Homo sapiens: one gene and its partners. The protein of the gene in region 7 interacts with the protein of the main gene of each other region in a pairwise test. Each region holds a gene or a part of one and is shown on either strand. Other genes may lie near its edges.

The links.
Region 1: the proteins of SGTA (region 7) and C3orf52 interact in binary tests that used the Homo sapiens proteins (3 or more experiments, as listed by UniProt).
Region 2: the proteins of SGTA (region 7) and PCDHA4 interact in binary tests that used the Homo sapiens proteins (3 or more experiments, as listed by UniProt).
Region 3: the proteins of SGTA (region 7) and PAGE3 interact in binary tests that used the Homo sapiens proteins (3 or more experiments, as listed by UniProt).
Region 4: the proteins of SGTA (region 7) and TWSG1 interact in binary tests that used the Homo sapiens proteins (3 or more experiments, as listed by UniProt).
Region 5: the proteins of SGTA (region 7) and SMAGP interact in binary tests that used the Homo sapiens proteins (3 or more experiments, as listed by UniProt).
Region 6: the proteins of SGTA (region 7) and IRF5 interact in binary tests that used the Homo sapiens proteins (3 or more experiments, as listed by UniProt).

The regions. Positions count from the first base shown.
Region 1 is NC_000003.12:112,096,389-112,099,888, reverse strand, and holds part of C3orf52 (TPA-induced transmembrane protein), read right to left. Parts: intron 1-3,500. UniProt on the Homo sapiens protein: Has a role in LIPH-mediated synthesis of 2-acyl lysophosphatidic acid (LPA). LPA is a bioactive lipid mediator involved in different biological processes, and necessary to promote hair formation and growth.
Region 2 is NC_000005.10:140,978,068-140,981,567, reverse strand, and holds part of PCDHA4 (protocadherin alpha-4 isoform 1 precursor), read right to left. Parts: intron 2,620-3,500; coding exon 2,561-2,619; intron 1-2,560. Other genes in the region: PCDHAC2 (protocadherin alpha-C2 isoform 1 precursor), read right to left, coding at 2,561-2,619; PCDHAC1 (protocadherin alpha-C1 isoform 1 precursor), read right to left, coding at 2,561-2,619; PCDHA13 (protocadherin alpha-13 isoform 1 precursor), read right to left, coding at 2,561-2,619; PCDHA12 (protocadherin alpha-12 isoform 1 precursor), read right to left, coding at 2,561-2,619; PCDHA11 (protocadherin alpha-11 isoform 1 precursor), read right to left, coding at 2,561-2,619; PCDHA10 (protocadherin alpha-10 isoform 1 precursor), read right to left, coding at 2,561-2,619; PCDHA9 (protocadherin alpha-9 isoform 1 precursor), read right to left, coding at 2,561-2,619; PCDHA8 (protocadherin alpha-8 isoform 1 precursor), read right to left, coding at 2,561-2,619; PCDHA7 (protocadherin alpha-7 isoform 1 precursor), read right to left, coding at 2,561-2,619; PCDHA6 (protocadherin alpha-6 isoform 1 precursor), read right to left, coding at 2,561-2,619; and 4 more. UniProt on the Homo sapiens protein: Calcium-dependent cell-adhesion protein involved in cells self-recognition and non-self discrimination. Thereby, it is involved in the establishment and maintenance of specific neuronal connections in the brain.
Region 3 is NC_000023.11:55,257,915-55,261,916, reverse strand, and holds the end of PAGE3 (P antigen family member 3), read left to right. Parts: intron 1-1,257; coding exon 1,258-1,383; intron 1,384-3,388; coding exon 3,389-3,411; 3' UTR 3,412-3,502; downstream 3,503-4,002.
Region 4 is NC_000018.10:9,333,564-9,337,572, reverse strand, and holds the start of TWSG1 (twisted gastrulation protein homolog 1 precursor), read right to left. Parts: upstream 2,801-4,009; 5' UTR 2,653-2,800; intron 381-2,652; 5' UTR 344-380; coding exon 221-343; intron 1-220. UniProt on the Homo sapiens protein: May be involved in dorsoventral axis formation. Seems to antagonize BMP signaling by forming ternary complexes with CHRD and BMPs, thereby preventing BMPs from binding to their receptors.
Region 5 is NC_000012.12:51,260,416-51,263,915, forward strand, and holds part of SMAGP (small cell adhesion glycoprotein), read right to left. Parts: intron 1-3,500. UniProt on the Homo sapiens protein: May play a role in epithelial cell-cell contacts. May play a role in tumor invasiveness and metastasis formation.
Region 6 is NC_000007.14:128,947,927-128,950,538, forward strand, and holds the end of IRF5 (interferon regulatory factor 5), read left to right. Parts: coding exon 1-195; intron 196-283; coding exon 284-402; intron 403-646; coding exon 647-892; 3' UTR 893-2,112; downstream 2,113-2,612. UniProt on the Homo sapiens protein: Transcription factor that plays a critical role in innate immunity by activating expression of type I interferon (IFN) IFNA and INFB and inflammatory cytokines downstream of endolysosomal toll-like receptors TLR7, TLR8 and TLR9.
Region 7 is NC_000019.10:2,754,215-2,756,744, forward strand, and holds the end of SGTA (small glutamine-rich tetratricopeptide repeat-containing protein alpha), read right to left. Parts: intron 1,720-2,530; 3' UTR 501-1,719; downstream 1-500. UniProt on the Homo sapiens protein: Co-chaperone that binds misfolded and hydrophobic patches-containing client proteins in the cytosol. Mediates their targeting to the endoplasmic reticulum but also regulates their sorting to the proteasome when targeting fails.

The DNA of each region.
Region 1 (3,500 bases), on a different chromosome or scaffold from region 7:
ATGAAAACCAACATGCATAAAGTATCCTGCATGGTGCCTTGTAGTAAGTGGGAAAGTTGCTATCAAGACACTACCAAGGAATAACTGGTAAGATTTGGCCATTATCTAGATATGAGAAAGAAGAAATCAAAAAGGTTTCCAAGATATCAAGCCCAGGAACAGGAAGAATAATAGCTACTGTATTAAGTATGACGTGCAAACATTCTACTATGCACCTTATGAATATATTTTCCTCACATAATCCTCACATTAACCCAATGAGTTAAATATTGTTGTTTTCATTTTTAAATGAAGACACTGAGGCTTAGAGAAAATGCATAATTTGTTCAGGTCAATGAATTAGCATGTATTAGGGTCAAGGTATATTTATAGACTCAGATTCCGAAATCCTTTACATTTTATAAATGGGAAAACAGGCCCAGAGGCTTGACAAGTTTGCCTAAAGTTACACAATTGGATAGTAGCAGAACTAAAATAAACTTGGTCTTATATAAAGGGTGAGTGAATGGGGAAAAGATGAACAAATTGGGATGAAGGATATGTTATGGTCTGAATGTTTGTGTCTCCCCGAAAAATGCATATGTTGAAATCTAACCACCAATGTGAGCGTGTATTAGTCCATTCTCACACTGCTATAAAGAACTACCTGAGACTGGGCAATTTATGAAGAAAAGAGGTTTAATTGTCTTACAGTTCTGCGGGCTTAACAGGAAGCAAGGATGGGAGCCCTCAGGAAACTTACAATTATAGCAGAAGGCTCAGGGGAAACAAGCATGTCTTACCATGGGGGAGCAGGAGAGAGAGAGAAAGAGCAAACAACAAAGAGCCACACACTTTTAAACCATCAGATCTCATGAGAATTCACACACTATCATGAGAATAGCAAAGGGGAAATCTACCCCCATGATCCAATCACCTCCCACCAGGCCCCTCTTATCATTCAACATGAGATTTGGGCAGGGACACAAATCCAAACAATATCAGATGGTCTTAGAGGGTGGGGCCTTTGGGAGGTGATTAGATCATGAGGGGAGAGCACTTTTGAATGGTATTAGTGCCCTTATAAAAGAGGCCCAGAAAGCTGCCTTTCCCCTTATACCATAGAAGATATAGCTAGAAGGCATGATCTACGAAATAAAAAGTGTGCCCTCACCAGACAGCAAATGTGTGCTGACACTTTGATCTTGGAGTTCCCAGCCTCCAGAACTGTAAGCAATAAATTTCTGTTATGTATAAGCTACCTAGTTTATGATATTCTGTTATAGTAGCCCAAGCAGACTAAAATAGCATACAAACAAATGGTAGTTTCACATGTATAATAATTGAGATGATGACAGTTATTTTTAGATAAATATCTCTAGCCAAGAGTACTTCCAAAACTCAGGAAAATTGTACAGATGTAGATCTAGGAGTCACCTTCTTGGAGGCATGGCTGCTGTCCTGGGAGTGAATGAGCTCTCCAAGAAAAAGAATGAAGAATGTGAAAAGTCACGAAGCTGAAGAGAAGCCTCATGAACCCACAATGCAGATGCCAAGAGCAAAAATAGCAAAATCAACCTAAAGTCCAGGAGTTCTATAGACTCAGAAGAGTATAATGAAGTTGGCAGAGCTAAAAGCTGACAATAAGGCAGGAGACAGAGAAATGTTGGCTTCCACGATCAGACAATTGCTAGTAATCTTGGGAAGAAAAATTGGGAACCAATAGATACAAGAGGTTTGGGAGTCTGCAGGAGGCAAGATTCAAATGCAGACCTTTCTTTCTGGAAGTGTGCCAGTGAAAGAAGGGAGAGAAAAACACATATCTAAATGAAGTAGCAAGAATCCTGATGGAAGATTGCTTTGAAGGAGAGAGGATGCTAGTGCATTTGAAGAGTTAACCCATTTATACCTGAGGTTGAACTTTTCGAATTTTTGCATTCAGACTTTGGTGATGACCTTGAGCAGTAAGATATAAATAACTTCTACATGATTAGCATTCCAATAATGGAACACTAGGCATAAATTAAGAAGAACCTGAGGATGCTTAGAGAGAGGAGGAGATATCTGAAGATCTCTGGGTCAGAGGAAGCTGAAAGATATTATATGGAGACCACAGGTAAGGGTGTCCATCTTGGTAGAGAAACATCAGCGATTTGAAGAAAAGATAAACAGGTGAAAATGGAAAGAAATTTCAAGGTACTGGGTCTAGCACTGCTCTCATGTTCCTGCCCCAAAGGACCTTGGCAGCTTATAGCTTGTTAATGCTGTCTGCCTAGGATTTTCCCATGAGTCACCCTACACCAGGGAGCATTACCCTGTGAAAACTGTCAGTCTGCCAGAACCACATGACATCATAAAATGTAGCTCTTATTCACAACTGAAAGGCAAACAAATCCACTCAACACAACGTCACTTAGGAAGTCGTTGCTTATATCTCAGTACCACAGCGTTCCTACTCATAAAAGGTGTATAAATTAAGAGATTAGGGTCAGGCAAGAATCTGGGGTATAATGTTGGGGGATATCACATGAGGGTCTCCAGGATGTTATCAATTTAAATCATGTTTCTAAGCATCCACCTACTTGTCACAGTTTTGTTTTTGAAATATTTAAAATATTTTGCCCCAACCAAAACTTCATTAGTAAAGTGTTATTCAGGGTCTCACCTCTCCATGACTAGGGTGAATTATTGAAGAAAGGAGAACCCTTGAGAACACTCAACTGATCCTCCAAATTATCCAGAAAGAAAATGACTTTGAGAAAAAGATGAAGGCTTTTGTTTCTGTACCTTTCAAATCAAGAAATTTATAATTCCTTATGAGGAAGGAAAGAATCCATTAATACCTTTTCCCTAAAGAGTCTCAAATAACAGAATTCCCTGGGTTCCACTCATAAAAATGGACATTAAAAAAATTTCCATGTCGATTGTGAGTCTGGTGGACAGGTAGCCTCTTTTCCCTAGCACATACAAAGCCCCTACTCAGTGCTTTAAGCTAAGCCATGATCCTGAATTTGTCATTCTTCAATGGCATACAAGGGAAGAGTAGTGGGCAAGCCCAACCCATGTACAGGCAATGAAGGCTGCACAGTCTGTAGAGAATGAGCAGCAATAATAAAACCTACTACAAGTTGGTCTGCTTTTATTATCACCACATGCTGACAATTCTTAATTCGAGTGAAAAAATATAACTCCCCACTGGACACCCTGCCCTGGGTACCCAGGTGTCCCCTCCCCAACTTTCTGTTCTGAGATGCTTTCACTGTCCCATTTTATGTCCACCCCAACTGCACAGTTTTGAAGGCTAAAGAAATTCCGTCTTAGTTATTATTTCACTGTATTAACTTCTGATTAATCCCAGCTCTGGAAATGCCTCTAAGATTTCTATTTCATCTACTGTTGCATGTATAAGAGCACATACTTACCATAAATCTCACCCTCAGGTCTAAACAACCTTAACGTTATCTACATGCCATAAATCTTGCCCTTATGCAATTATAAAACACATCCCTTCTGAAGCATGC
Region 2 (3,500 bases), on a different chromosome or scaffold from region 7:
AAGCCTCACTCTGTCACTCAGGCTGGAGTACAGTGGCACGATCTCAGCTCACTGCAACCTCTGCCTCCCAGGTTCAAGCAATTCTCCTGCCTCAGCCTCCCAAGTAGCTGGGACTACAGGCACCCGCCACCATGCCTGGCTCATTTTTGTATTTTTAGTAGAGACAGGTTTTCACCATATTGACCAGGCTGGTCTTGAACTCCTGACCTCAAGTGATCCACCTGCCTCACCCTCCCAAAGTGCTGGGATTACAGGCATGAGCCACTACACCTAGACTAGAGGACCCTTTTAAACTAGACATTTGCTTATCTTGAAAGTTAAATTTCTAAAATAAAATTTAGACTACTGACTAAAGGGGTTATATGAGGCAACAGAGCAGGCAAACTTGAACTATTAGAGGGAAGGCAACATATAAGTTCAATGTTTTCTCACTCTTTGACTTCAAACAACATATCCAGTAGAAATTCACTCATTAAACTCTGACCTTTTACTATTCTTCCCCTTGTCTACACTCTAGAATTATCTGTTTTTTTTCCCCAAATATTAACAGCCTTCAAGTGTTCCTGGATCCTACTAGCAAATTGTGTGGGCTCAGTCAGATTCATGAAGGTGTAACTATCCTGGAGCCAGCTCAGCTCAAAGCAGAATTTTTTAAAGAATAGTTACATGATGTCCAAGACTGGAAAGACCGAGAACACCCAAGCACACATACGAAAAAGATTAGTATTATTTAGGTTCACAACTCATTTAATATGTTCAATGTATTACAATGCAAAAAAGAAATGGCATTTTAATTTCAATTTTTATTTTATTTCTTACCCTACTCAAATCTCATAATATCTTAATTGAAACCCGAATAGGAGCACATTTGGCTTTTTTTTTTCAATTTGAAAATGGGATAAGGAAGTTATGTTATTTTATTCATTTATTTATTCTTCTGAGACAGAGTCTCGCACTGTCGCCAGGCTGGAGTGCAGTGGCTCGATCTTGGCTCACTGCAACTTCCGCCTCCCGGGTTCAAGCGATTCTCCTGCCTCAGCCTCCCTAGTAGCTGGAACTACAGGCACATGCCATCACGCCCAGCTAATTTTTGTATTTTTAGTAGAGACAGGGTTTCACCGTGTTGTCCAGGATGGTCTCGATCTCTTGACCTCATGATCTGCCCACCTCGGCCTCCCAAAGTGCTGGGATTACAGGTGTGAGCCACCGCGCCCAGTCCAGGAAGTTATGTTTTAATGTTTTATTTCAAATGTAGTTTTTAAGGCACAACTCATAGCTTTGGTACTTTTCAAGAGTTGGTACTGTAAACCATGCTTTTACCCATTGCATGTCTCCACCAACAGCTCAGATGCAGGCAAAAGCACAAGTTGGTCTCTAATAAATATAAAGAATTTCTTCTGATACCTAATATTCTGGTATATGCATGAATGTTTCTGGCCTAAAATTATGACCCAGGTTCCAATGTGACATCTTACCAAGCCAACTACTAATCTTCAGCCCTTCACTGATTGCTTCTGAATCAGAAATAGCACCCAATGTAATGATTTCTGCTCATTTGTAATGCTTGAGAGTATGTTAATTTATTTCAATCTAATGCATTTTAATGGGCTAAAACTAATTTCACATTAACTCTACACATACTTTGTAGGCTTTCTCTTTACGAACTGATCTAAGTTTGGTGAATATTCACTTGATAGTTGCCCAGATATTTTGAGGGGCTTAAGTTTGAAGATTATTTCTTCTTTAAAATTAAATCCTTTTGATAGTTGTGATCATTTGTTTCTTGGTCCTTCCCATTTGGTTTCCAAAGACATTCGCAAATAATGAATCTTTTATTTGGCCCCATGGCATGGATACTGGATCACCTCCAGAAATAATGGTAGTTAATCAATTACTGTCAGAGAGACAAAGTAGAGAAAGCAAAATTATATTTAATCTGAGTCTTAGACTAATACCGTTACTCTAGGTTAATTTAAAGTAAGCTAGATTTGGAGCCCTTTACATGGCTCATCTTCTGAAGAACCATGTCATTGATGACAATAAGATAGCAACAGATGGGAAAGATGAGGAGGCTCTAATAGGTGTGAACACAAACAACAATAGCAATCAATTATTGAGGGTAATAGGATGTAATAGCCAATGTGAGATTAAAAAAAAAACAAGGTAGACAACATGTATGTATACATTGCACAATGTACCCAAGTCTCAAAGCATGAGTATTAATTACAGTTTTTAAAGGAGGAAAAGAAAGCATAGGTAGAGAGGGATGAAGGAGGTTGAAATTACTTCCCTGTAGAAATTTTGATGGGAGAAAATACATAGCAGCCTGTTTCTGTGATTTTACAGAGGACTCTTATATGCCAGCACTTGATAAGCATCTGGCACTGACCATTTGCGATCTTTCAAGGAATAAACATGGGGACAAAATAATTGCATTTTCCTGGCAAAGTACCTAAAGCTTTTTAGTTTTGACAGCTGCTTCTGGCCTATGGAGATGCAGTTTATCTGAGCCATACCAAGTTAAGGTTACTTCTGAGTGAATGAGGAGGGAAATACATACCTGTGCATGCCTGCTCTCAGGGAGGCAGAGTAACGCCAGTCAGGGTTGGGCTGTCGTGGCTGCAAAATCACAAAGAGAGTTTTCTGTTAAAATGACAAGACAATGTTCTCCCAGGAATGCTGCTAATTGATTAGTTACTCCCTTAAATATTTCCAGGCATCTAAAAAAGTATTGAATGAGCCATTTCATGTGTAACTCTATGATGATATCTACATATATAGCACTTTAGAAGAAAATTAGTTCATCAGGGTCCTCACACAGATTAGATACCCTGGAAGACCAGATTTAATAATCTTGTAAAGGCCACCTTTGGCTTTGCCTTGCCCAATACATGTCTGTGTTCTTAAAACACTACGGGAAGAACAGTCTGCTTTGAGAAAGGAAAAGCTTTCACTGCTTTTGCCCTCAAGTGCCCCATTAAGGGAACATTCCCAATTCAGTATTACAGCTATAACAGGGCACATGGCTACACAAGTTCTGCTGGCCTGGCTGGACTGCAGAGGACTGCAATCTGCTGCTGGCTTTGCAGACTGCAGCATATTTGACCCAGGGCGGATGTGCCCAGTCATAACACCAGCAACTGATAACAGTCTCTTTTCTGATTGAAGAGGGATACTAGGGAGAGGAAAACAAACTATTGCAGAGTTTGACCTTGTTTTGCTAGCTAATCCTTTTCATAAACTTGTACTTGTTCCTGCTCCTTCCTGAGTGCTTTCCCTCCTCACTGAATCACTGTTCACTAAGCTCTGATTGTTTAACAGGGAGTAGCTGAAATCCAAGAAAAACCTGATACATTTTGCATTAGTTGTGTATTGAAAAGATCTGTTGCCCTCTCTCTACAAACTCTCAGTCTGAAGGGGGAGAACAAAGAGGAAAATATGGGCACCTAAAGACTTAAAGACTGTTGGGGGAGTTATGTGCTGGTTAGAAGCTACTCAGA
Region 3 (4,002 bases), on a different chromosome or scaffold from region 7:
CCCCAATAGGTTATGGGTGTCATGACTATAAGATATGTCATACGCTTACAAATCCATTCAGCTAATTCTTCATAAAATTATATTTTAAATGTAATTTAAATCTTATCCATGGTGTAAAGTTCTGATTTCCTGGATGGCTGATGTTTATTCCCCTTACAGCACTATGGTAAAATATAAGGACGGCACATGTTTTGTGGTTTGTCCTTATAATGTCATTTAAAATGGAGGTTTTTGTAATGCAGGAAAACAAATACATGAAGTCCAATCCATCTACAGCCATACCACCCTGAATGCACCCAGTCTTGTCTGAAGTCCAATCCTAGTTGCTGTTAATGTTGTCAAAAATAACTCTTGTCTTCCTGAACTCCAACATAGTTGTCATTTATTCTTTTTTATTTTTAATTTATGTTTTGTAAAAATATAAAATTTACAGAAAAGTTGCAAGATTATTATAATCAACTCATATGCTTTTCACCTAGATTAACTAATGTTTAGAGTTTTGCCACATTGATTTCATACCCACTATTCTATTATATAGCCATATTCTCTTGGATAACCCCTGTATGTTTATTAAATTTGGGGAATTCAACAATGAAAAATGCAGTTGTTTAATATATAGCTTATATTCAAATTTCCCCAGTTGTCCTAATAATTTCCCTTATAGTTTTTTTTCTGATTCCAGGATCATGCATTACATATAGTTGTCAATCCTATTTAATCTTTTTTAATCTGGACCAGTTCTTCACTCTTTCTTCGTCTTTCATGACACTGGTATTTTTTAAGAGAATGGACCAGTTGTTTTGCAGAGCGTTCATCAGTATAGGCTGTATTTTTAAATACTTTTTTTTCACTCAACACTTATTCACAGTGACTCATGCCATGCAATATGTAGGCTTTAGGGATGTAAATACTAATGAAAGAGATGATTTCAGCCTTGAGCTCACAATCTAGTTAGACAGACTCAAATGAATCACTAATTTGAAATGATAAGTACAATAACATATACCTACAGAGGGTTCAACTAATCTGTCTGGGGCAGTTGTGGGAAAAGAAAAGGGTGATAATATTTGGAAAATTTTGTTTTCTTTTTCTGGTAAGAGTCCTGAAATAATGTTCTTGAAATTCTTATGCATTGCGTGTATTACCACACTAGCCTATAGGCTTTTATTTCATAACATTGAGGGAGTGAATATTATCATTCTTTTATTTATATTTTATGTTTTACAACTTAAATTGGTAATGTTTTTTATTTTTAAGTGCTAGGCCTGGCAGCCTATCTCTGGGAACTGACTCGGTCAAAGACTGGGGGTGAACGTGGAGATGGTCCTAATGTCAAGGGAGAATTTCTGCCAAATCTGGAGCCTGTTAAAATACCAGAAGCAGGTAAGTTATTCATTAAAAATGCAAATTATGGGGTTTCTGTTTTCAAAAATACTATATATTTTATAATATAGAGGTACCACTACTGCTAATATAATTTAACAGAGTTCATATATAAAGATTCTTTGAAAGATAGTTCAGTCCCCAAAAGCCTGACTAATAAACAAGCACCATCATAGATCCTACCACATTGGGTCAAAGCCACATTCAATTATAAAATGTGAAGGTATTTTCTTACTTTTTAGTATCAGTTCCTAAACCAACAGCTAGTAATATCAGATACTTTTATAAAGGTCTGCTTTTAATAAATACCTAATGAATTTGTAACAGATATTCACTGTATGAAACATGCTGAGGCAATTAAGTAGGCTCTAATCCAAGCTCTAACAAAATTTCACTGACTTTGGGCAAATTCCTTATCTTCTAAACCCATATTTGCTCTTATAAAAATGGGTCAAAATCAAATATATTAAAATTTGAGTAATCAACTTAAGTACGTTTTACACATGTTTTTTCCAAACTTCTAGGCATTAGTTATATGAGCTTCTGAATTTAATATAAACACTTAGTGTTTAGGAAAGAAATTATCTTGCATTAGTCTACTGCTTTTGCTCTACATTCCTGATCCATTCCATTAGAATATTTAGATTAAAAATATTTTTCAGGCTATGTTCAGGAACCTATTCAACATATACTCATAGGAAGATCATTGCTTTAAATACATGTTATTAAAAAATAAAAATATAAAATTATATGAGCATTCAATATAAAAAATAAGAAAAAGGCACAAGATAAACATAAGGGAGAAGGAAAAATATACTTAATAAAAGACAGGTATAAGTCTTTATTTAAGGGAAATAATTCAACTAGTAAATAAAAGAGATTTTCAACATATCTATGAATAGAGGATCCCCTAGTTTACATAATGTTGAAGAAAATGGGCAAAGCTCAAGTATACACAATAAAAAATAGGAACAAGACAGGACAGATATTGAATGTGTAATATAATTAAAAGTGGATACATTCTTGAGCTCTAAACAATTTTCAAAATTTGATGCAATGTTTGATATGCTAGCAAAACATAAAATCATTTACTATACCACAGTAGTAAATGAATATTTAAACATCATAACATGGATGAACTTTTAAAACTTGCCAGAATTTTCCATCAAAAGTATTTATCATTTAGAAACAAAAAAAAAAGCTATTGTTTGTTTATTTGTATTTGGCTTTTCTAGATTCCTCAGTCTCTTCTCTTTCTCTCTCTCCTCCTCTCCCTCTCCTTCTGATCCCCGTTTTGCCAAATTGTGAGAATCATTACTATTTCTTTTTAACACTTCATCTATAATAATAATGGCTTGCAACCAGTGTGACGATATAATTTATTGGACAAACTGGAATATTTTTAACTGTGCAAAGAGGCATTATTGATAATTATACTAGAACCACAGGTGAAAACAGAGACAAATGGTTAACCTACTTAAAACAACCATATAAAGAGTAAACTAATCAAAAACATTTTAGCATTTTCCCATAACAGAAACAAAACAAATATAATACTAGCCTTTCTATTTATGCCACTTAAGCACTTTCAAATGTGTCATTACTGTTTGAGCTATCCTATATTCAAAACATTATTTCAAATTTCTTTTGTTTCCTAAGTTTTATGTTTGCTTATGTTTGGTTAGTTGGATTTTTTTTTTCTAAAATTACATGCAGTTTTTAGTTTCTAGTTAAAACTTTCTTTAAATAGGTTCATTTGATCAAATCATTTCGAACTCAAACTCTTTCTTATACACTAGAAAAATGAGTGGGATTTTAAAATATTGTTAATATACCTGAAAGCCTACCTTCAAAGTCTCTATAGCGGTTTAACTGGATATAAGCCAGAGGGTTACCTTGTTATAGTTCATTTCATAAAACCAAAACTATGCCTTTTTTCAACCCGTAGTGTCATCATAAAAAGTTCTGCTAAAAAATACTCTCAACTATTATGTTTATCTTATAGGTGAAGGGCAACCATCGGTTTAAATGAAGACAAGCTGAAACCATACATGCAGTCTTTATGTTGGAAACTTCACCAGTAAAATTCTCTCAATAAAGTTTCACAATTGTCTGCAAAGAAGTCTTGTGCAACTTATGTCAAACTAGGAATAATTAGGTGTTTCATGCTATTGAAAATTGTATCTTTTTTGAAAATTTATATTTTGTTTGAGCTGGTATATAGAGATATAATTTTATGTATTGATTTTTCTCTCCAGAAACCTTGCTAAATATGCTTATTAATTCCAAAAGTTTCTCTCTAGGTCCTTTTTGATTGTCAACATATACAATCATGCCATCTGTGAGTAATAATACTTTTCAGTCTGCCTTTTAAAGTATGTTACTCTTCATTTCCTTAATTCATTTTATGACATTGGACAGACTCATCCAGTACAATGTGGAATTGAACTGGTGATAGTGGACACCCTCATCTTATTCCTGATAAGAAATGGAAAATATTCAACATTTTACCATGATTTACTGTAGATTTTACTTGCAGATATGCTTTATCAGAAGTTCCTTCTATTTCTAGTTTCCTGAGAGTATTCTTCTTGGATATATGTTGACTTTCATCGACTG
Region 4 (4,009 bases), on a different chromosome or scaffold from region 7:
TATACTCAGTATTGAACTTCTTGAATCTAACCTTGCCTATATATATTGATTGCTATGAGGGTAAAAATCCAGACCTGTGTGTCATGATTCAGTACCTCAGGCCCTGACCCAATACTCAGGTCTTACTCTATATGATATATGCACTCTATATCTGTATATAAACATAATGTTTCTGCTCTACAATATATTTTGATATTAATAAAAGTACTCTTAGTCCTACCTGAATGAGGCATTTGCTCACATCACTAGCACAGAGTGCTTTGTTACAGCTCAGTGATTCTGGAAGCCATGTCAGGAACATCAGGATGGCTAGAGTAAGCACAGCAACATAGTGTAACTTCATGTTTCTTCAAAGAAGATGATCAGTAACTCCCAGGAAACTAAACAAACAAACACAACTTTAATTCAAAGGCAAGTGCTAGGGTAAAAACAAATATAAAAATGAGAAACAAAACATAAACTAAGACTCATTGTTTGTGTCAATATACTTTTTCTTTCTTTTTTAGAGTCTTGCTCTGTTGCCCAGGCTGAAGTACAGTGGTGTGATCATAGCTCACTGCAGCCTTCAATTCCTGGGTTCAAGTGATCCTCCCACCTCAGCCTCCCAGTTATCTGGGACTACAGACAATACCACCATGCCTGGCCTTCAAAAAACTTTTGAGTGATCATTTAAAGATCATTCTCAATGAAAGATTATATAAACATTCAAAAATAAACAATAATTTTGTATAATAATGGCTTCATAGCCATCTTCAAGGACCTAGAACTCTACAGTTCCTCAGACTATCCAGAAATGGTGACTGTGAAAGTAGAGTGAGTATATCTAAACCCTCAGTAACTTGAGAGTATATCAGGCAAATAACTAGCTTCAATACTGCACTGCTACTATTCAACTTTAATTTTAGGTCCATTATTCAACTGTAAGCCCATATAAAACTATTAATATTGTATTATAATTTTAAGATATTTAATTTTAATTCTTAGAATCAAAACAAAATTTTAAATGGAAATTATTCAGGCTTATTTAGACAGAATAAAGCAGCTCAAAGCAAGAAGTAGAGTCCACAGAGTCACTTCTTAAATAATTGAGCAAATAACAAAAGGCTGTTTAATTACTAATTGCATTAAAAACTCTAGGTAATTATTAGAATGTGACGATATTCTTTTTTTTTTTTTTCTTTTAGACGTTGTCTCGCTCTGTCGCCCAGGCTGGAGTGCAGTGGCGCAATCTCGGCTCACTGCAACCTCCGCCTCCCGGGTTCATGCGATTCTCCTGTCTCAGCCTCCCGAGTAGCTGGGATCACAGGAGCCTATCACCACGCCCCGCTAATTTTTGTATTTTTAGTAGAGACGGGGTTTCACCATATTGGCCAGGCTGGTCTCGATCTCCTGACCTCAGGTGATCCACCCGCCTCGGCCTCCCAAAGTGTGGGATTACAGGGGTGAGCTACCGCGCCCGGCCAAGATATTCTTTTAATTCTATTAGTACCACACATTCTTCAAAGTTATTAAGAAGATACTACAGTTCAAAAAGAAGAAGGAAAAAAGACTAGCACAAACACAGTCTGACAGGGGCCAAACAGTATACAGTTATTAAACTTTAAATACGGGAAGATATCATTTCTTCAGGTTAAAACACCTCCCTATCAAACATAATAAATTAAAATAAATGACTACTGACGTAAGAGGGATAAATAGTGAGTTTATGGGGGCATTTATGATTACTCTAAACTTTTATTCTAAGTGTTACAAAGTACATTAAAGGAAAAATAATAAAAGGGTGAAAAGAATAAAGGGCTTTGGACCTGGTATGAGTCAATTTTGAAAGAGAAAACCCTGGTGATCGTTACTGAGGCTCACAAAGCATTCCCTAAAGACCGTTAGTAACTAATTTTCTAATGTATCTAACGCCGCATACCAAGTAGGATGATTTCTGGAGCAACCAGTACATATTTGCGGAGGCCAAATAAGGTTATTTGGAGACTAACTGTCGTGGAACTAGTTTTCATCCTACAACCATGAAAACTGGGATTTCCCCCCTTTCCCATCTTTTACGGTTGTCTTATGAAATGTTCCACAAATTCATCTTACTCCCCAAATTTCACTGGAAAAAGTATTCAAGTAACTACGACCATGTCGAAATCAGGTAATAGAATTAAAGGACTTATCTTTTCCTAAGGAGTTAGAAACCATCATGCATCAAAATTGTTTCGCATACATCACGCCCAAGTTTCTCGTTAAGGGAGATGGCACTGACAGCGACCAGGGCAGAGCCGAGCCTCTGTAGAGCGGTGCCAGGGCCCCGAAGGCGCCGGACGCCCCGCGAGGCAGAGGCCGGTAGCGGTGTGGGGGACCGGGCACCCGGAACCACCCCCACCCCGGCTCGGCCGACGCGGGCTGCGGAGGACGCGGGCCGGCCCAGAGATGGTCTGGACCAAAGCGGCGCAGAGATGCTGCTGGCTCCCGGCGTCCGGCCTGTGCGCCCGCGCCCAGCACCCCCACTTTGTCCTCCGCGCAGCCGGGCCCAGGCTTCTCCCGGCCCCCGCGAAGCTCGCCGCGGCCCCGGGCCTCTAGAGGGCCGAGCTCGGCGCCCGGCCCCTTCCCAACCAAGAGGCCAAGAGGCTGCACAACCCCCCAGCCGCTCCCACTCACCATGCGCCACGGTCCCGCGAAGTCGCCCACCCCTAGATCCCCGCCGGGTCGGCCGAGCCCGGGGCGCGCTGCGGCGGCTTTGAGTGCGAGGCCAGGCCGCGCCTCCCGCCGTCCCCTCAGCGCAGCGCCCGCGAGCCTCGGGCACCTTAAAGAGACAGGCCCGCCCGCCGCCCTCCTCCCGGCTCCTTGCTCCCCGCCCCTGCTCCCCTCTTCCCCTCCGCCCCCGCTGGGGTCCACAGCCGCCAGCTCCCGCCAGGAGGCGTCTCTCACTCCCCCGGCGCTCCTGTCAGCGCGCACGCCCCCATCTCGGCCCCGCCCACTCCCCCCGCCCCTCCCAACGCCACGCCCCCTCCGCGCCACCCGGTTTCGCCCCTCCCTCGTGCCACGCCTCCACCGCAGGCTCCCGCCCGCCCGCCGGCCCGCAGGCCACGCCCCCAGGCGCACCCACCCCAGCTGCTCAACGCGATTTCCCTTCGCGCTTCTCCGCACCGGGATCCCCAGTCCCTCAGGTTCCGACAGACCCTCCTGTCAGGCCCATTCTCCGGGCCCCCTCAGTTGCAGTGTTAAGATCAACAGTGTTAAGATTAAAGCCTTGTGATGTGCTAGCCACTACGCTGAGGATATGCCGTGTACTAAAATTCCTCAGGACTCCTCACAGCTGCCCTGTAAGGAAGCGGCCATGGCCGGGTTCTAGCGATGCGAGGCCGAGGCTCGGGGCGCTGAGTAGCCTAGCGCGTCGCCGAGGAGAGCTGGCACGTGAACCCCTTGTCGTTTGCCGTCAGAGGTAGGATTTATATAAAATGCGCGTTTCCTAGGTCTACCTCAGACCTACTGAATAAGGATCTCCAAGGGTAGAGCTTTCGAACTTCGTTCACCAATTCGATAAAACTTGCCAGGCTCCTTGTGAGTGGCTGGCGCTGAGCTCTGCATCGGAGCTCTGCATCGGGAGTCGAGAAGAGGGGGCGCCATGGATCCGGGCGCGGAGGTCGCGCAGCCTAGGTAGAAGGTGCGCGGTTAGCACGTAGGTTAAAAACATTGAGAATGACACTCAGTTCTTTCCCACAACTCTGGGTTGCTTTTTTTTTTTTTTCTTTTGAGACAAGGTCTCACTCTCACCAGGCTGGAGGGCAGTGACAACATCAGGCTCGCTGCAGCCTCCACCTCCTAGGCTCAAGCAATCCTCCCGCCTCAGCCTCCCGAGTAGCTGGGGCTACGGGCGCGCACCACCACGCCTGGCTAATATTTTATTTTTTTGTAGATATGGAGGTCTTGCTATGTTGCCCAAGCTGGTTTCAAATTTCGGGGCTCAAGCGATCCTCCCACCGCGGTCTCCTAAATCGTTGGGATGACAGGTGTG
Region 5 (3,500 bases), on a different chromosome or scaffold from region 7:
ACCCAGGCTGGAGTGCAGTGGCAGAATCTCGGCTCACTGCAAGCTCCGCCTCCCAGGTTCACGCCATTCTCCTGCCTCAGCCTCCTGAGTAGTTGGGACTACAGGTGCCCGCCACCACGCCCGGCTAATTTTTTGTATTTTTTTAGTAGAGACAGGGTTTCACCGTGTTAGCCAGGATGGTCTCAATCTCCTGACCTCGTGATCCACCCGTCTTGGCCTCCCAAAATGCTGGGATTACAGGCGTGAGCCACCGCGCCCGGCCAATTTTTTTTTTTTTTTTTTTTTTTTGAGACGGAGTCTCATTCTCTGGCCCAGGCTGGAGTGCAGCGGCGTGATCTCGGCTCACTGCAACCTCTGCCTCCTGGGTTCAAGCGATTCTCCTGCCTCAGCCTCCCGAGTAGCTGGGACTACAGGCGCCCACCACCACGCCCAGCTGATTTTTTTGTATTTTTAGTAGAGACGGGGTTTCACCATGTTAGCCAGGATGGTCTCGATCTCCTGACTTCGTGATCCACCCGCCTCAGCCTCCCAAAGTGCTGGGATTACAGTATTTTTAGTAGAGAGGGGGTTTCACCATGTTGGTCAGGCTGGTCTCGAACTCCTGATCTCGTGATACACCTACCTTGGCCTCCCAAAGTGCTAGAATTACAGGTGTGAGCCACCGTGCCCAGCCTTAATTTTTTTTTTTTTTTTTTTCTGAGACGGAGTCTCACTCTGTCACCTGGGCTGGAGTGCAGTGGCTCAATCTTGGCTCACTGCAACCTCCGCCTCCCAGGTTCAAGCGATTCTCCTGCCTCAGCCTCCCAAGTAGCTGGGATTACAGGCACCCGCCACTATGCCCAGCTAATTTTTTGTATTTTTAGTAAACACAGGGTTTCACCATGTTGGCCAGGCTGGTCTCGAACTCTTGACCTTGTGATTTGCCCACCTCGGCCTCCCAAAGTGCTGGGATTACAGGCATGAGCCACCACACCCGGCCTGGGTGTCACAATTTTGAAGTGAGCAGGCAAACCATGTCAGATAAGGAAAGCTTGCAAGAGAAAGCCCAGAGAAAAAAAAGGGAGCCTAGAGCTTGAATTCTGTCTTCTAATATGCCAAGGCATGACCTGTACAAGAGAACTAACAGCAGAAACTGGGAAAGACAGATGTCTCCCCAACAGAAGGAAGAGCAAAACTGGACAAAAGCTACGTAGCATCTTGGAGAGAGAATTCTAGGACAGAATGGTTAGTTGAACTAGCTGAGCATCAGAACCCCTCTCAGCCTTAATTTTTGAATTTTTATAAATGGAAAGTGTTCTATTAGAATTCTCATTAAAATCAAATTTTAAAATAAAAAATCCAGACATACTTAGAATGTCTATCTGGAGAGGAATGATGAAATAAATTACAGGCCATCCATTGTGGAAACAGTTGCTAAAACGAATATGAGATCTACAATATTACTGGGACAGGATACATGGTTAGATGAAAAAAGCAAACTGCCAGGTGGTATATGTAGTAGGACTGCATCTTTGTTTAAAAAAAAAAAAAAAAGTAAATTGGCAGAGTGCAGTGGCTTACACCCATAATCCCAGCACTTTTGGAGGCTGAGGTGGGAGGATTGCTTGAGGCCAGAAGTTTGAGTCCAGCCTGGGCAACATAGCGAGACCCCTGTCTCTCTGTGTATTTTTTTTTAAGTAACTTTAAAAAACCCTATAAATATGCATATATATGTTTGTACATAGAAAAGGTCTAGAAAGCTGTTCTCTGAGGGGCATGTATTACCTTTCAAATAAAAGAACATGCTTGGCAAGGTGGCTTACACCTATAATCCCAGCAATTTGGGAGGCTGAGGCCAGAGGATCACTTGAGTCCAGGAGTTCAAGACCAACCTGGGCAACATGGCAAAACCCTGTCTCTACAAAAAATACAAAAATTAACTGGGCATGGTGGCACGCACCTGTGATCCCAGCTACTTGGGAGGCTGAGGTGGGAGGATCACCTGAGTCTGGGAAGGTTGAGGCTGCAGTGAGCTGTGATTGAGCCACTGCTCTACAGCCTGGGTGAAACTGAGGCCCTGTCTCAAAAAAAGAAAAAAAGGACAAACAACAACAAAATAAACTAAGTTCAGGAAAGCTGGCATAAAAGGAGGAAATGGCTTATAGCTTTTCCCCCATTCTCTCCCGTTTCTACCCCATTTTTTTGTCCAAACAAAGGAATAATTATTAAATAGCACTACAGTCTTTCCAAACCTTCCCTGCTCAGGTTCATAAGATTGAAGGCCCCACCCAAGTCCTAACCAATAGCAAATGACCTTCAAGATCTATTCTGTTCACTTACTCTTTTTTTTGTTAACCCAGATACTGGCTGGCTTCTTTGTGGTCCTTGTTCCCAGCTTGAGCTAAATCTCTTATCACTGAGGCATCAGATCTTTTGCCACCTAAGTCTGCCAGCCTACTTATTTGCTCTAGACCTGCCCAGCAGAGGGCGGCTCCCCGAGTTCTTTCCATGGGAAGCCACCCTGGGACTCGGCCCCCTTTCTTCTGCCTTCTCTTTCATGTGCACCAGCCAGTTGGGTGGAGTGAGACCTTGGGAGCAGTACACCATGACAGAAAGAACACAGGCTTGCAGTAAATCAGACTTGGCGCAAAATCCTGCCTCTGCCATTACTAGCTGTGTGACCTTGGGAAATTTTTTTAATCTTTGAAAATTTAACGGTGACTCATGCCTGTAATCCCGGCACTTTGGGAGGTCGGGGTGAGTGAATCACTTGAGATCAGAAGTTCGAGACCAGTCTGGCCAACATGGTGAAACCCTGTCTCTACTAAAAATACAAAAATTAGCTGGGCATAGTGGTGGGCGCCTATAGTCCCAGCTACTCGGGAGGCTGAGGCAGGAAAATTGCTTGAACCCGGGAGGCAGAGGTTGCAGTTAGCCGAGATTGCACCACTACACTCCAGCCTGGGTGACAAGTGGGAAATTCCATCTCAAAAAAAAAAAAAGAAAAGAAAATTCCTTAACTCCCCTGAACTTCAGTTTTTCCTTCCGTAAAATGAGACTAAAACTTGTTTCATTGGGTTGTGGTGAGGAATAAGTGCAATGAAAAATGCTGCTTTGGGAGGCTGAGATGGGAGGATCACCTGAGGCCAGGAGTTTGAGACCAGACTGGGCAACACAGTAAGACCTTATTTCTACAAAAAATTATTTTTAAAATAAAATAAAGAAAAATGCTAAGTGTCTAATACAGGGTGAGGACAACCTAGGCGGTAGCTGGTGTGATCATTTGGTGGCAAGAGATGAGCTTTACCTGGCACGGTGGGCAAAGCCCACAAGGCACAGTTCCACTCTGCCCTACTTCGAATAGGGCTGACTTATGCACTAGGCACAACAGGCACAGTGCCCTGGGCCCACAATGCTTCGAAAGGCCCATGAAAATGTTTTAAATAATTTTCATTTCTTTTATAATTAGAAGAAGGAAAAGAAACAAAATTTTAGGTCAAAGAAATATTAAGGTTGTTATG
Region 6 (2,612 bases), on a different chromosome or scaffold from region 7:
ACACGAACCAGCTGCTGGATGTCCTGGACCGCGGGCTCATCCTCCAGCTACAGGGCCAGGACCTTTATGCCATCCGCCTGTGTCAGTGCAAGGTGTTCTGGAGCGGGCCTTGTGCCTCAGCCCATGACTCATGCCCCAACCCCATCCAGCGGGAGGTCAAGACCAAGCTTTTCAGCCTGGAGCATTTTCTCAATGGTGAGGGCCCAAAGCTGTGATCCTCCTGGCTGCCTCTTGCCCAGGGCATGGTTCCAGCCTCTGACTAGGGACCTTGATTTTGATGCAGAGCTCATCCTGTTCCAAAAGGGCCAGACCAACACCCCACCACCCTTCGAGATCTTCTTCTGCTTTGGGGAAGAATGGCCTGACCGCAAACCCCGAGAGAAGAAGCTCATTACTGTACAGGTACATCTCCCCTATCCCAAAGTCGGCCTTGGCTTGAAAACTGGGGAATCCTGGGGCTAGGCCCTTGCCCCAGGCTGGAGGCTCAGGGCTCCCTGAGCAGTGTGAACTTGGCGGCCAGAGACCATCAAGGCTCAGAGCCGGAGAATGCGGTCTATTACTCACCCCTGATGGCTGTCCTCATGCACAGCTGGATCTGGCAGCCCTGCCACAGGTCTCCCTGTCTCATCTCCTCTTTGCCTCCCAGGTGGTGCCTGTAGCAGCTCGACTGCTGCTGGAGATGTTCTCAGGGGAGCTATCTTGGTCAGCTGATAGTATCCGGCTACAGATCTCAAACCCAGACCTCAAAGACCGCATGGTGGAGCAATTCAAGGAGCTCCATCACATCTGGCAGTCCCAGCAGCGGTTGCAGCCTGTGGCCCAGGCCCCTCCTGGAGCAGGCCTTGGTGTTGGCCAGGGGCCCTGGCCTATGCACCCAGCTGGCATGCAATAACAAGGCTGCAGACGGTGACTGGCCCTGGCTTCCTGGGTGGCGGTGCGGACTGATGTGGAGATGTGACAGCCCCGATGAGCACCTGGCTGGCTGCAGGGTCCTACCTCTGGGTTTCCTGGAAGTGGATTTGGGCCAAGAAGGAGAGGGAGAAAGGCCCGAGCCCCTGCCTTCCCGGGCCTTTCTCTCCTGGGCTGTCTCTGGTCTGGTCAGCCTGGCTCTCGGGAAATTCAGCCATGAGCAGGGAAAGAACTCTCCCAACCCTGGGGCCTAGCTGTATAGGAGGAATTGCCTAAGGGTGGCCCACTCTTGTGATTGCCCCATTTCCTCTGGCAACAAAAGCCAGAGTGTTGTGGGCCAAGTCCCCCCACAGGGCCTCTGCAGGGCATGGCCCTGATTTCCCTGGTTTGAGACTCACTTCCTCATCTCCCTGTCCTCTGAGATAATATGAGTGAGCACTTAGGTATCATATCAGATGCTCAAGGCTGGCAGCTACCCCCTTCTTGAGAGTCCAAGAACCTGGAGCAGAAATAATTTTTATGTATTTTTGGATTAATGAATGTTAAAAACAGACTCAGCTGTTTCTTTCCTTTTACTACTACCAGTTGCTCCCATGCTGCTCCACCAGGCCCTGTTTCGGATGCCAACTGGCCCACTCCCCAAGCACTTGCCCCCAGCTTGCGACCATTGGCACTGGGAGGGCCTGGCTTCTGGGCTGATGGGTCAGTTGGGCCTTCATAAACACTCACCTGGCTGGCTTTGCCTTCCAGGAGGAAGCTGGCTGAAGCAAGGGTGTGGAATTTTAAATGTGTGCACAGTCTGGAAAACTGTCAGAATCAGTTTTCCCATAAAAGGGTGGGCTAGCATTGCAGCTGCATTTGGGACCATTCAAATCTGTCACTCTCTTGTGTATATTCCTGTGCTATTAAATATATCAGGGCAGTGCATGTAAATCATCCTGATATATTTAATATATTTATTATATTGTCCCCCGAGGTGGGGACAGTGAGTGAGTTCTCTTAGTCCCCCCAGAGCTGGTTGTTAAAGAGCCTGGCACCTACCCGCTCTCACTTCATCTGTGTCATCTCTGCACACTCCAGCCCACTTTCTGCCTTCAGCCATTGAGTGGAAGCTGCCCCAGGCCCTTACCAGGTGCAGATGCCCAATCTTGATGCCCAGCCATCAGAACTGTGAGCCAAATAAACCTTTTTCTGTATAAATTACCCAGCCTCGGGTCTTCGTTTACAGCAACGCAAAATAGATTAAACCCCCATAAATGTTCAAGGATACCTTGCCCCACAGCCTCGTCCACAGAATATATTGTCACTGTTTGGATTTTTGCCAACCTGACAGGTGAGATAGTATCTCAGTGCCACTTCTCATTATCAGCAAGGCTGAGTAGCTTTTCACATGGTTAAGTGGCCTGTACAGATTTTTTTAAATAATTTTAGAATGGTTTTAGATTTATGGAAAAGTTCCTAATAGAGTTCCTATGGACCCACACTTTCTCCAATTGTTAACATCTTACATTACTATGGCACACTTGTGACAATAATGAAACCATGTGGACAATTACTATGAACTCAACTTCTTTATTTGGATTTCATGAGTTTTTCGGATATCCTTTTTCTGTTCCAGGATACTATCCAAGATATCACATTACATTCACTTGTCACATCTCCTTAGACTCCTCTGGTCTATGACAGTTTCTTAGACTTTTCTT
Region 7 (2,530 bases):
CCTCGTCTCTACTACAAATACAAAAAATTAGCTGGGCGTGGTGGTGCATGCCTGTAATCCCAGCTACTTGGAAGGCTGACGCAGGAGAATCACTTGAACCCGGGAGGTGGAGGTTGAGGTGAGCCGAGATTGCGCCATTGCACTCCAGCCTGGGCATCTAGGGTGAAAGTCTCAAAAAAAAAAAAAAAGCAAAGCAAAGCAACAGACAATACGATCACTCTCTGCTGAGGACCGAGGCATCTCACCCCACCCTGGGGTGACCCTCTACACCGGGATGCAGCTGGGGACGGAGGCGGAGGGAAGGGAGACAGCAGAGGGTAGAGGCTGACTGTCCGAAACCTCCCATGACCCGTGACCCGTGACCCAAGAAGTGCGGCTCCGGCGTCGCGGGGATTCACTCACAAGCAGCCCAGCTGATCCACAAACTCCGCGTCGGGGGTTTTCTCGAGGTTTGGGGTTGGAGGGTATCGGTGGCGCCAAGGTCAACACGAAGACAGACAGAGGTCACAACGCCTATTTATTCCCCACACGTCACGCCCTGCACCCCGGGTGGGCTTGGCACACACCTCACCGCCATGAGCGGCTGCAGGGCCGCGGCGGCCCCCGTTCCTACTGCTACCTACGATACACGGTACTGCGCCTACCTCACAGACGGCCAGGAGCCAGGGAGCCCCAGGATGCTCCGACTGACAACCCTGCTGCTGGGACCACGGCGCCGTGGGCTCGTCTGCCACCCCCAGGCCTCAGGAACCCAGACAGGCTGCCTGCTGTCCGGCTCTCCGGCTGCTTTCCTGGTGGCTGTTTTAGGGCCAAGGTGGGTGGCACCTGAGGTGTCCCGTGGCCTCCACCCAGCACAGGAGGGGTAAGCTTCCCTGGGGGGCCCCGGGCCCATGAAACATCCAGGACAGAAGGACAGCAGGATGGGACACAGACAGAAACGGCCCAGCTGCCTTCCCTGTGCCCGGGGCTAAGGCGGCCGGGACAGAAGGTCATGATGTCGCCCCTGGCTCTCAGTCGCGAGGACCAGAAAATGAGGGTGGGAGGAGGGGAAACATGTCTGTCAACATGCCCAACTGGAGAAAAGTCACAGAAACTGGTCCTATGCACCCAGGACGGCTCCTGAGCCGCGGAGGCGTGGGGTGACCGCAGCCGTCTCTTAGGTGTCTGCCACTAAAGAGTTCCTCATGCAAACACACATGGCCCGCGGTGCCCAGGCCGCAGCTGGCAGTGAGCTCTTCCGAGCAGGCACAGGGCCGGGGTGGCCGGGAGGTCGACTCGGAAAGAGGCTTCTCACAGACGGGAGAGTTCCTGCAGACAGACCACGGGATGGGGGGCGGGGGCTGTAAAAGGCTTTGGAAGCCACACGATCCGCCACACGGCTGAACGTGAAACCTGCCACTTCTCTGAGAGCGGCCCGGGAGCACCCCAGGATTCTAGAAAACACTCAAGTGACCGAGCTTTCTGGGGGCTGGAAGGGAGGTCGCTGCTGGTCTGTGCTCAGCTTGCTGGCTCTCGTTTCAAGAAGGGTCTGGGGGCTGTAAGGGAGTTACAAAAAGGGAGTGGAGGAGGGCAGAGATAAAAGGGGAAAATCCATCTTGACATGCAGGTCCGAGGTCTCTCTCTTCCCCTCTCTCAGGCAGTCCAACAGGAGGAAGTGGCAGACAACCAGAAGGCTTCCTTCGGGTCGGCCAGGGAAGGACGCGGTCACACCGGGAGCAGCTGGAAGGGGACAGACATGAAGGCTGTCAGAGCGCAGGTGGGGACCAAGGCTGCACCACACACTCCAGGCAGCAGGAGAGGCCCAGAGTGGACAGCCAGGGGCCACAGCGGCTATTTCAACGAACGTCAGAGCCACAGCTGCACCAGAAGCGTTCCACACACTCGGGGCCACGTGTGGCTGGTGGCGCAGAGAACATCGCCATGACCTAGAAGGGTCTACAGTATGGTGGTACTTTGTGTATGAGGTTACGGTGGTAAAAAATCCACCTCAACTATTAAAAAAAGAAAAGGAAAAATAAATAAAAGCTTATTTAAAAAAAAAAGGGAAGACTGGAAGAAAAGGCGGCCAAAATATTAATGTTGGTGGCTCTGGGTGAGAAGATTAAGGTTGGGCTGAATGCACGGCTCACACTTTGGGAGGCCGAGGCGGGAGGATCGCTTGAGCCCAGGAGGTTGAGGCTGCAGTGAGACGTGACTGCACCACTGCCCTCCAGCCGGGGGGACAGAGCAGGACGGTCTCAAAAAAAAAAAAAAAAGATTAAGATTGTTCTTGCTGCTTTTTAACATTTTTGTATTTTAAATTTGTCTACAGTAATTATGGTTTAAAAATGAAAGAGAGTGTATATGAGGAGGGGACAACGACAAAATGAAGAGGCCACATGGGAGCAGAATGGAAACACCTCTGGGGAGGCCCGGAGCCTCCCGCCCCCAGGGAGCCGGCGTCTGCTGGAGACAGACAGGACTGAACTCAGGGGAGCCTCCCACCCCTGGGAAGCCGGTGTCTGCTGGAGACGGACAGGACTGAACTCAG